2 separate regions of the Homo sapiens genome follow, and region 2 is linked to region 1. Evidence: fine-mapped expression QTL. A gene starts in region 1. The other region holds a variant in brackets. All regions are shown on one strand. Distances are between the middles of the regions. Region 1 holds the start of TNFRSF10A (TNF receptor superfamily member 10a). Region 2 overlaps TNFRSF10A (TNF receptor superfamily member 10a).

What was found. PIP is the estimated chance that this variant, and not a neighbour inherited with it, causes the effect.
Region 2: its variant is fine-mapped to the expression of TNFRSF10A in whole blood (TOPMed, PIP above 0.99).

What each region holds. Positions count from the first base shown.
Region 1 is chr8:23,221,959-23,227,327 of GRCh38, reverse strand. TNFRSF10A (TNF receptor superfamily member 10a) reads left to right here and starts at 2,226. Exons shown (of 10, transcript NM_003844.4): 1 at 2,226-2,572. The coding sequence starts at 2,267. TNFRSF10A-DT (TNFRSF10A divergent transcript) reads right to left here and starts at 2,107. Exons shown (of 3, transcript NR_033928.1): 1 at 1,205-2,107. RefSeq lists an enhancer at 1,834-1,973, silencers at 2,025-2,216, 2,384-2,633, promoters at 1,616-2,269, 464-2,269, 1,698-2,734 and a cis regulatory region at 2,655-2,734.
Region 2 is chr8:23,198,282-23,203,650 of GRCh38, reverse strand. It overlaps TNFRSF10A (TNF receptor superfamily member 10a), which reads left to right. Exons shown (of 10, transcript NM_003844.4): 3 at 890-1,003; 4 at 1,732-1,843; 5 at 2,891-2,964; 6 at 3,051-3,146; 7 at 3,734-3,765; 8 at 4,203-4,385. Among named protein-coding and RNA genes, the nearest start is that of TNFRSF10A, 24 kb to the left of the region's middle. The variant A/G (reference allele first, on the strand shown) is at 2,976.

The DNA of each region.
Region 1 (5,369 bases):
CATATCTAATGGTGATTAATTAGATGTGTTCTAAGATATGGAATAAGATAAGCATGTCTGCTTTAACTATTTCTATTTAACATTGTACTGGAAATCCTATCCAGGGCAATTCAGCAACAAAGATGAATAGAAGGTATAAAGATTGGAAAGGAAGAACTGAGACAGTTTTTGGTTACTGACAATAGGATTGCTTACATAGAAAATCCTAAATAATCTATAAAATAACAACTAGAAATATATCAATTTAGCAGTACCATAGCATACAAGGCCGATGGACAAAAATCAACTGTATTTCTGTATAGTTGCAACAAACAATTTGAAAATAAGGGAAGCTAAATCAATTCCATTAGCAATAGTAACAAAAATAGTTAGAAATATGTTTACAAAAGATATGAAAGATTTGTACATGGAAAGTTTGCAAAATATTGTCAAGCTTAAGTAACAAATATCTAAATAAATAAATTTCATGGATTGAAAGACTCAAAATTGTTAAAATGTCAATTATTCTCATTCATCTCTACATTCAATGCAATCCCAATTAAAATTCCAGTAGGCTTTTTTAACTGAAAAAAATTATTCTATATTTAATATATACGGAAATGCAAACCATTTGGGAGGTGGGTAGTAGGGGGAGGACTTGAACTGCCTGATTTCAAGACTGACTATACAGCTCATAATTAGGACAATGTGGTAATTAGCATGAGAATAGCCAAATAAATAAACGGAACAGAATAGAGTCCGGAAATGGACACATACATATATATGGTCAATTTAATTTCAACAAAAGTGATAAGGCTATTGGATAAGGAAAAAAAGTCTTTTTTTTTTTTTTTTTTGAGACGGAGTTTCCCTCTTGTGGCCCAGGCTGGAGCGCAATGGCTCCATCTCGGCTCCCCGCAGCCTCTGCCTCCCGGGTTCAAGCGATTCTCCTGCCTCAGTCTCCCGAGTGGCTGGGATTACAGGCATCCGCCACCACGCCCCGCTAATTTTGTATTTTTAGTAGAGGCTGCGTTTCTCCATGTCGGTCAGGCTGGTCTCGAACTCCTGACCTCAGGTGATCCGCCCGCCTCGGCCTCCCAAAGTGCTGGGATTACAGGCGTGAGCCACCGCGCCCGGTCGAAAAGAGTCTTTTCAACAAATGGTACCGGAACACCATTAAAATATGGAGAAAAATGAACATCAATCAGCGCCCCCTTTCTCTTACCCACTCCTCAGCCCCAAGGTCGCCCTGGGAGTTCTTCGCAGGCAGGACCGTGACTCGCGTGGCTTTCGGGAGGCTGATTACCCACGCCCCATGCCCGTGCAGCGCTGGGTGCAGAGGAACCGCTGGAAGGACCTGTCCCCCGTGGGACCCCCACCAAGTCTCATCCCGTGTCATGTGCCAGATAGTCTCCCGTGGTTTAAGGACTTTCAAGACTCTTAACAGGTTAGGAAAATCCAGAAGAAAGGCAGAATTGGGTCCCTCGGGCTTGCCTGACACCAGGGACGGTGGAGTTGAGGTGACATTTCACTGGCATGGAGACCTGAAACCAAAAGCAGGATGAGCCGGGCACGGTGGCTCACGCTTGTAATCCCAGCACTTTGTAAGGCCGAAGCGGGCGGATCACGAGATCAGGAGCTCGAGACCAGCCTGGCCAAAACAGTGAAACCCCCGTCTCTACTAAAAATAGAAAAAAAATTAGCCGGACGTGGTGGCGGGCACCTGTAATCCCAGTTACTCAGGAGGCTGAGGCAGGAAAATCGCTTGAACCTGGGAGGCGGAGGTTGCAGTGAGCCGAGATCGTGCCACTGCACTCCAGCCTGGGCGACAGAGCTTGACTCCATCTCAAAAAAAAAAAAAAAAAAAAAAGGCAGGCTGAATCACTCGCCCGGTAGTGACGGAGGAGGCCGTAAAAGCCTCTTAGAGGCCAGACCCCGCAGTGGCCTCTGTGTCCTTCATTCCGCCACCCATCCGTCCACCGAGCGCCTGCTGGGTGCCAGGAACTGGGTCACAGAAAGGCTGAGGTCAACTCCCGACCGAGAAGCCTGGCGCTGGGACCAAGTGGCAAAACGACTCCGAATGCAGCGGCATCCACGCGGCGGCCGTGGTTGAGGAACAGAAGCTGAGAGCGGCAAGGGCGGTCACAGAGGAAGGAAGTTCAGGGTTAGCCAACAGGAGCCGCAGGTGCCCCGAAAAGGGGGCGGGGTCAGGGGTGCCCTGAACTCCGAATGCGAAGTTCTGTCTTGTCATAGCCAAGCACGCTGCTTCTTGGATTGACCTGGCAGGATGGCGCCACCACCAGCTAGAGTACATCTAGGTGCGTTCCTGGCAGTGACTCCGAATCCCGGGAGCGCAGCGAGTGGGACAGAGGCAGCCGCGGCCACACCCAGCAAAGTGTGGGGCTCTTCCGCGGGGAGGATTGAACCACGAGGCGGGGGCCGAGGAGCGCTCCCTACCTCCATGGGACAGCACGGACCCAGTGCCCGGGCCCGGGCAGGGCGCGCCCCAGGACCCAGGCCGGCGCGGGAAGCCAGCCCTCGGCTCCGGGTCCACAAGACCTTCAAGTTTGTCGTCGTCGGGGTCCTGCTGCAGGTGAGTCCCCACCGCGGTCCTGCCTGGGGAAAAGCGCGCCTGGCACCGGGAGGGGGCAGAGAGAGAGGGGGACGCGGCGGGGGTGCCTGGCCCGGGTCACTTGTGGCGGGGCATGTCCGGGCAGGAGGAGCCCGTCGTCGGAGTCGGAGGAAGAACGGGGTCCCCGGGGCCAGGCAGGAGCGACCCGGGCCTGGAGGCAGCAGAGCCCCCTCCCGCAGGAGGCTGGGCCCGGGGACTCCACCCCGTTGGCTGCTGCCTGGCGCGTCTCCCTCCTGCCCACACCTCACGATGTATCGGGAAGTTTCGGAATCGATAGAGCTCAAGTGTGTAAACTTCCAAGCCAACTCCCAGCCACACCAGCTGCGTGAAGGGGAGCGCCATTCTCCCCACTCCCTGATTCCCTCCCCACCCCCGTCCTTCTTTTCTTCTCTTCTTTTTTTTTTTTTTTTTTTTTTTGAAACGGAGTCTCTCTCTGTCGCCCAGGCTGGAGTGTAGTGGCGCGATCTCGGCTCACTGCAAGCTCCGCCTTCCTGGTTCAAGCGATTCTCCTGCCTCAGCCTCCCGAGTAGCTGGGAGTACAGGCTCCTGCCACCACGCCCGGCTAATTTTTTGTATTTTTAGTAGTCACGGGGTTTCACTGTGTTAGCCAAATCCGCCCGCCTCGGCCTCCCAAAGTGCTGGGATTACAGGCGTGAGCCACCGCGCCCGGCCCTCCATCCTTCTTTTCTTAGACAAATTGGTTAAACACGCAGCCCGGCAGGAAAAAGTAACTTTCTCTCCTCTGCTCGTTGTCTTCCGTTTCGAGTCCACTGAGCACACCGGCAGCAGTTTCCTTCCAGCCACTTTCTTGCGCATCAACAGGTACAGGGCAGCGAATTGACCACCACGAGGCAGGCAGCCAGGAGCGGGGCACGCCCTTCCTTCAGGAGGCAGCGTTTCCTGTGAAAGCAATCACTCAGTCTGGAAAAATGCCAATGCCTTCAGTTCTCTTTCAAGTTCATTAAGGCTCTACCAATTGTTCTCATCCAGATTCCTTCTATGTTAAGGAAAAACAAAACGAAAGCTAAGTACCTGAAGGATAAACCAGTCTTACAAGTGTCAGGAAATTTTACGTGTTTTTGTTTAACAAACTAAACAAAATCCAGGAATCCAATAGCATTTTGAAATCTCCAAATAATTACAGAATTTATGTTTTAAACGTCAGTTTATGTTAGGTGGAACCCACGTTTGACTCTTATTTTTAATACGCTTATTAAATGGCTTTCTTTTTGACAGGCTAGTGCGATTCCAGGTGGATGTAGGGCTCACCTGTATAGACAAGGTGAAACATCTGAATTTGGTGGTTTTGGAAATGTCACAGTCCGTTGGTGTGGCTATAAAAGAATACTTGAGGCCAGGCGCGGTGGCTCACGCCTGTAATCCCAGCACTCTGGGAGGCCGAGGCGGGCGGATCACGAGGTCAGGAGATCGAGACGATCCTGGCCAACACGGTGAAACCCCGTCTCTATTAAAAATACAAAAAATTAGCCAGGCGTGGTGGTGGCCGCCTGTAGTCCCAGCTACTCGGGAGGCTGAGGCGGGAGAATGGCGTGAACCTGGGAGGCGGAGCTTCCAGTGAGCCGAGACCACGCCACTGCACTCCAGCCTGGGCGACAGAGGGAGACTCCGTTTCGGAAAAGAAAAAAAATAAAAAAGAAAACTTGACGCTGGATAATTTTAAAAGAGGCTTATTTGGCACATGGTTCTGCAGGCTGTACAAGAAGCATGCCACCAGCATCTGCCTCTGGTGAGGCCTCAGGAAACTTCCACTGGTGGTGAAGGGGAAGGACAGCTGGATTCTGCCCATCAGGGGAAGGGGTGGGGAGGATGGCAGGAGGAGGGGGATGAGATCCGGAAGGGAGACGGGGAGGGGCCAGGTTCATTCTAACAACCAGGTGTCATGGGGAACTAAGATTGACAACTCCTGGGGGAATGTGGGAGGGGGCGGTTATGGCACCAAGCCTTTCATGAGGGATCCACCCCAAACCCCAACAGGCCCCACCAGCTACATTACGGTTCAGATTTCAACGTGAGCCCTGGCAGGGACAAAGGACCCGTAGCAGACACCAAGGCCTTCTGCCATCCCACAGGACCCTCTCATCCCACCATCCCTCAGCCTTCTTCCTGTGCATTTATAGGCACCTTAACTTTTAAAATTCTGACTGAAGAACAAATCGCATTGGATGTTTTCTATCAGTACATGCAAGTATCTCATTCTTTTTAACAGCATCATAATATTTAGTGCATGGGTGAAACACATGGCGTGAACCACAGTTAATTTTAATCTTCCATCCCATGGGCAATTGTTAACATTATGTCCTGCTTTTGTTTTTTCTAATTCCAGCAGCATTGTAGTGAGAACCCTTGTATGTGTCATATGTCCATATGTCAATGTTCCCTGAAGTATCGGGCAGCCCTTTAGAAGAGGAATTTTTAGGTACATGAGCTCATCAATGTAGAATTTTGTTTGGATATTGCTAAATTGTACTTCGGGAGAAGATTGTGCCAGTTTTACTCTCACACCAAGAATACAAAAGTGTGGCCGGGTGCGGTGGCTAACGCCTGTAATCCCAGCACTTTGGGAGGCCGAGACAGGTGGATCACGAGGTCAGGAGATCCAGACCATCCTGGCTAACACGGTGAAACCCCGTCTCTACTAAAAATTGAAAAAAATTAGCCAGGCACGGTGGCGGGCGCCTGTAGTCCCAGCTACTCGGGAGGCTGAGGCAGGAGAATGGCGTGAACCCGGGAGGCAGAG
Region 2 (5,369 bases), 24 kb after region 1:
TAAGAGTATCTTTCAATATCAGTAAATATGAATCAGAGGAGAGGGATAAATAAATGGGCACTGAAAGGGGAGAGTGAGGTCACCTGAAGGGGCGAAGCCCTGGAGGTGAAGGTCGAGCCTCCAGACATGGGCTCCCGCTGGCGACAGCTCCTGCAGGCTGTCACCTCAGTGCCTGGAGACCCTCTGCAATCCAGGGCAGCATGAGGTAGGCCTTCTTTCTGTGGATCATTCTTTGACTCTGTATAGGGAGGACCCTTTTTCCTTCCATTTTCCTCCCATGGCAGGTGGCATGGGCTGTATCTGAAGCCTTCCCCTCATCGCTGTATTGTTTCTGCGCCTGTTTGTACCTTCTACTGACCAAGAGCTCACTGAGGGCAGGGATTAGGACTTTTTGTGAGTTTCCAGGGATGCAGGTGGCATTGCCCTGGTCTCTAGGCCTATGTGGCCATTAATCACTTAAAACACAGCCACTTTGAATTGAGATGTGCAGTGAGTGAAAAATACACTCTGGGTTTCGAACACTTAGTATTCAAAATAAAAGAAAATATCTCAATGTTTTATCTTGTTTACATGTTGAAATGCTAATGTTTTGGATATTTTAGGTCCAAAAAGTACATTGTTAAAATTAATTTGACCTCATTCTCTTTTTACTATTTTAATATGGCTCTCATAGAATTTGAATTTTGCATGTGGTTTGTATTGTATTTCTGTCAGCAGCGCCAGTCAGAGGTGTGTATAGATGCAGAATTGACGACAAGACCAAGCCAAGAAGATGGGATTTCTCTGTCTGGGGTCTACTGATGGCCAAAAGAAGAGTTTCCTAGCCACCGCCACGATCCTCTGGGAACTCTGTGGCAATTCATTCATTGGCTTTTCTCTCCCTTCCCAGGATCTCATAGATCAGAACATCCTGGAGCCTGTAACCGGTGCACAGAGGGTGTGGGTTACACCAATGCTTCCAACAATTTGTTTGCTTGCCTCCCATGTACAGCTTGTAAATCAGGTACAGAATGTGTGGACCTCTTGTCCAGAGGTGGAGTGAGGGGCAGTGAGGTGGGAGTGGTAGCCAATGTGAGTCAGGGAACCAAGTTCCAGCCCAACTTGGTCTTCATCATACCCTGTTCCATGGTTATGTCTTAGGTCCATAAAATGAAACAGAAAGAAATCATTTTTATAATGCATGCCACCTGGTAGTGCAAACTATCAGCTCCAAGAGGGTAGGGGCATCATTACAGCACAAAGAAGGCCTGGCTGAGTGGACAGGGCTGAGTTTCAGCGGTGGTACGGGTCTGCTCTGGGGCCACGCTCCCCCTGGGCTGTGTGCTCCTGGCAGGTTCTCAGGCTCACTCAGCCTTCAGTTTCTCAGGCGCCTCCCTCTTCCTCAGCAGGCTGGGTTTTTGGGAAGTCACCCAAGGGCTCCTCTTCTTGCAGACTCTCTCACATACCATGTGCCTCCTTTGCTACTGACCATGCGATCTAAATGGTGCTTTTTCCCTAATCTGATGTAATAAATAATGAATCATGGTCCTTTTGTATGACTCCAAGTGTTGGTGACAGCTGAAGGGTGGGTGTCCTGTGTGAGCCCGAGTGTGCTGGTGCAGAATCTGGCCCTCAGAACTCCTTGGCAAACTGAGTTGAGCTGAGCTGAGGGGGAGGGAGTTGGGGTGGTGAGGAAAGGTCAAGGGACACGTCAGGGAAACACATTCCCAAAACCTTGTACTCTGTCATCAGATGAAGAAGAGAGAAGTCCCTGCACCACGACCAGGAACACAGCATGTCAGTGCAAACCAGGAACTTTCCGGAATGACAATTCTGCTGAGATGTGCCGGAAGTGCAGCAGAGGGTGAGACAACAGCCAAGGGGCTCCCAGCAGCCTCAAAGAACCCACAGAAGCAAGGAACCCTAAAAAGACCCGAGTCTCCTTGTACCCGTATCTATCAGCCCTGACCCCATGGTGCCTCCACCCCCATAGGTGTCCCTGAGCCTGTGGCGTCTCCTGAGCCTGCAACCTGCCCCTCCTGGTCCATCTGCCTGTCCCCACCCCTGTCCCCTGCAGTGGCCCCTTCTCACCCCTCCCCAGCACTAGTCCCCTTGGCCAGGCTGACTTGTTCACTAGGCACAGGAGGCCATGACTTAGGGCCCACAACAGAGGTACATGAAATATTTTATCTTGAAATCATAAGAAAATAATGGTATAGAATCCAGCTGGGGTTATATTTATATTTAAACAAATTGAGTCATAAAATGTAATTTTTAATATTTGCTTTTAATTCAAGAAGACAGAAATGCCCACAGCCCGCAAAAATCATAATAAGGCCATGGGTGGAGCTCCTTCAAGTTCCCATGAGGACCTGAGCCCACCCAGCCAGCCTCACCCCTGGCCCCTGATTTCTCAATAAGTCCTGTCTTTTTCCTATTTTGGTTTTGGAAGCAAAGAGTAATTGCTCTTCTCTGGTCCTCCAGTGTTTGCTGTGATTGAGAGGAACCAGCAGACAGGTGGGGGCGAGGGCTCACTTGTACTGTGGGTTAACTGGAGGAAGGGGCTCAGCTTGTGGCCACACGGGCTTGTGATCTTCCCCTGGAGTGTGATTCCTCCTAACGCAGGCCTCCCCTGCAGCCCAGGGAAGATTAGTGTGTGCCCAGCACAGAAGGCTCCTGGAACTGCAGCTCTGACCCCAGAGCAGGGAGGCCAAGGGGGTAAAGTGTGCATGCTCAGACCCTTCCCCAGCCTAAACAAGGGAGCATAGGGGGACCCCCTGCAGATACGAGGAGACTATCCTTCCCCTGACGCCTTCTCAGGGACATTGGGCAGGGAGAGTGGCTCCTCTTTCATCCCACCTGGCCAGCTTTCCATCAAGAGTCCCCCCCCTCCCTCCCTGTGTGTACCCAGGTGCCCCAGAGGGATGGTCAAGGTCAAGGATTGTACGCCCTGGAGTGACATCGAGTGTGTCCACAAAGAATCAGGTACAAAGCCC[A/G]CTGGGGAAGCCCCAGCTGCAGAGGAGACAGGGACCAGCAGCCCGAGACTCCTGTCTTTTCCTGTCTTTTCTCAGGCAATGGACATAATATATGGGTGATTTTGGTTGTGACTTTGGTTGTTCCGTTGCTGTTGGTGGCTGTGCTGATTGTCTGTTGTTGCATCGGCTCAGGTAGGTGCTGGCTGAGGGCAAGGGCTCTGGGCACTCTCTGCCCTGCCTTCTTCTGTTCCCACAGACAGAAACGCTCACCCCTGCCCCAAGTCCTAGTGTCTCTGGCCGGGCTCTATCTTCCTCCTTGTGATCACCCCCCATCCTCCCATCCTGTGCAACCCTAGGGCCCTGGTGTCATCCGTCCCTCTCCCAAGGCTGGGGGTCCCCTCATCTCCCAGCCAAGTCTGGGAAGGCAGGGCCAGTTCCTCCACTGGTCAGGCCCATCCAGGCAGGGGGCAGTCAGCTCCTCAACTGGATGACAAGAGTCGAGACGAGAAGTGGTTGTGGGATTTATGTAGCTTTGTTCAGAGCAAAACACAGAGCAGAAAACAGTGATGTTCCACTTGTTTGTTTTTAGCCTACTTCCCTTTATGCTCCCCGCTCCTGAAGGATCTCCCGAGTTAGCAGGGCCTCATGTGGATCCCCAGGCCCGGGGATCTTTGTCCAGTGTCCCAGCCCCCAGCCCACCCCTGCCCAACACTGCCCTCTAAGAAGGAGTGCTGCATGGGCCCCTCCCTGGCCACTAAGGGAACCGTCTTCTCTTCTAGGTTGTGGAGGGGACCCCAAGTGCATGGACAGGGTGAGTTGATTTCTCCAGGAGCTGGGGGCATCAGGGGCTCAGGAACTGCTTCTTGCCCACAGTGTAGTCCAGGTGGGTGGGTCCCCGTGCTCTCATGGCTGCCCTGAGTCTCTGAAGTGGCCTGGATGCTGTGCATTGACTATGGGGGACACAGGCCCTTTTGAGCATCATACAGGCTGGTGGGCCATTCTGTAGCCCTGTGCTTCCTACAGCCCAGGTGAGACCCTTACCCCACAGCCTGTACCCTGGGGATGGGGTGAGCCCCCAAGCCCAGCACCAGGGCCTGGCCCCAGCAGCAGGTCCTGGATGTGCTGAGCATGGACTTCCTGGAGTGACCTCACTGGGAGGGGGTGGTGGCAGCAGGTCCAGCCGTGCCCTACGGACCCCGTGGGGAGCCCTGGGTGTGGGCTTCTGAGTTGGCTCTTTGCCTTCCTAAGGTGTGTTTCTGGCGCTTGGGTCTCCTACGAGGGCCTGGGGCTGAGGACAATGCTCACAACGAGATTCTGAGCAACGCAGACTCGCTGTCCACTTTCGTCTCTGAGCAGCAAATGGAAAGCCAGGAGCCGGCAGATTTGACAGGTGTCACTGTACAGTCCCCAGGGGAGGCACAGTGTCTGCTGGTGAGTTGGGGACAGGCCCCTCCAAGACCTTGTAGGCAGGGGGTGAAGGCCATGCCTCGGCTCTCCTGGTCAAAGGGGAAGTGGAGCCTGAGGGAGATGGGACTGCAGGGGACGGGGCTGCGTGGGAAAAAGCAGCCACCCTCACAAGGGGACAGGCACTCTTCCAAATGTCTGCTTCTTAGTCCCTGTCCTGTCCTTGCCATGTCCTCAGAAACTGGAGCTCCAGAGGAATAGAGTGGGGGTCACAGGGTTTGTTGATGACTGAATAAGGCTGCACGGTCTCCACTGTGTGCTCCTACAGAAGTTAGGGAGCCCTTGCTCATAACAGCAGGGATTTTAAATTTACTCTGAAATTATTATTGCATTAAACATATTTGGATCTAAATCTCTGCCCAAATTTCTGCATATGGTTGTATGGAGGATTCCAAGAAGAAGCACAATTTCCAAGTCAGCCTGTAACAGTGCTGCTTACTGTGTACACGCACATACACGCACATGCACACACATGCATGTACACACATGCACACACACATGCACGTACCCACACATACAGGTACACACATGCACACAGCCCCCTAGTGTTGGTTTGTACCAGTTCATGTATTTTGATTTGACATTGAAGGGCTTTTTCTTTTCTTTTTTTTTCTTTTTTTTGCTATTTAGGAAAACATTGTTTTAAACGAACATTTCTTTGTTTTCACTGTTTTTGCGTAAGATCAGTGTCTTGTCTCTCAGAGTCTTTATGAGAAGGCCTGCTCTCCTACTCATGCTTTTTCTCACATTCAGACAGTAGATTCCTAATTTCTTCTTGCCCCTTTTTGTTCTAATATTTTCAGGTGTAGAAGCTTTAATTTTTAACCAGTGAAATCTGTAGATACTTTTACCTTTTCATTGCTCACTACTGTAGAAAGACCTTTTGCCAACACAAGACGAACTCCTCTAACTTCTTATGGAGATATTTTTTTCAATGATGTGATTTTTGCA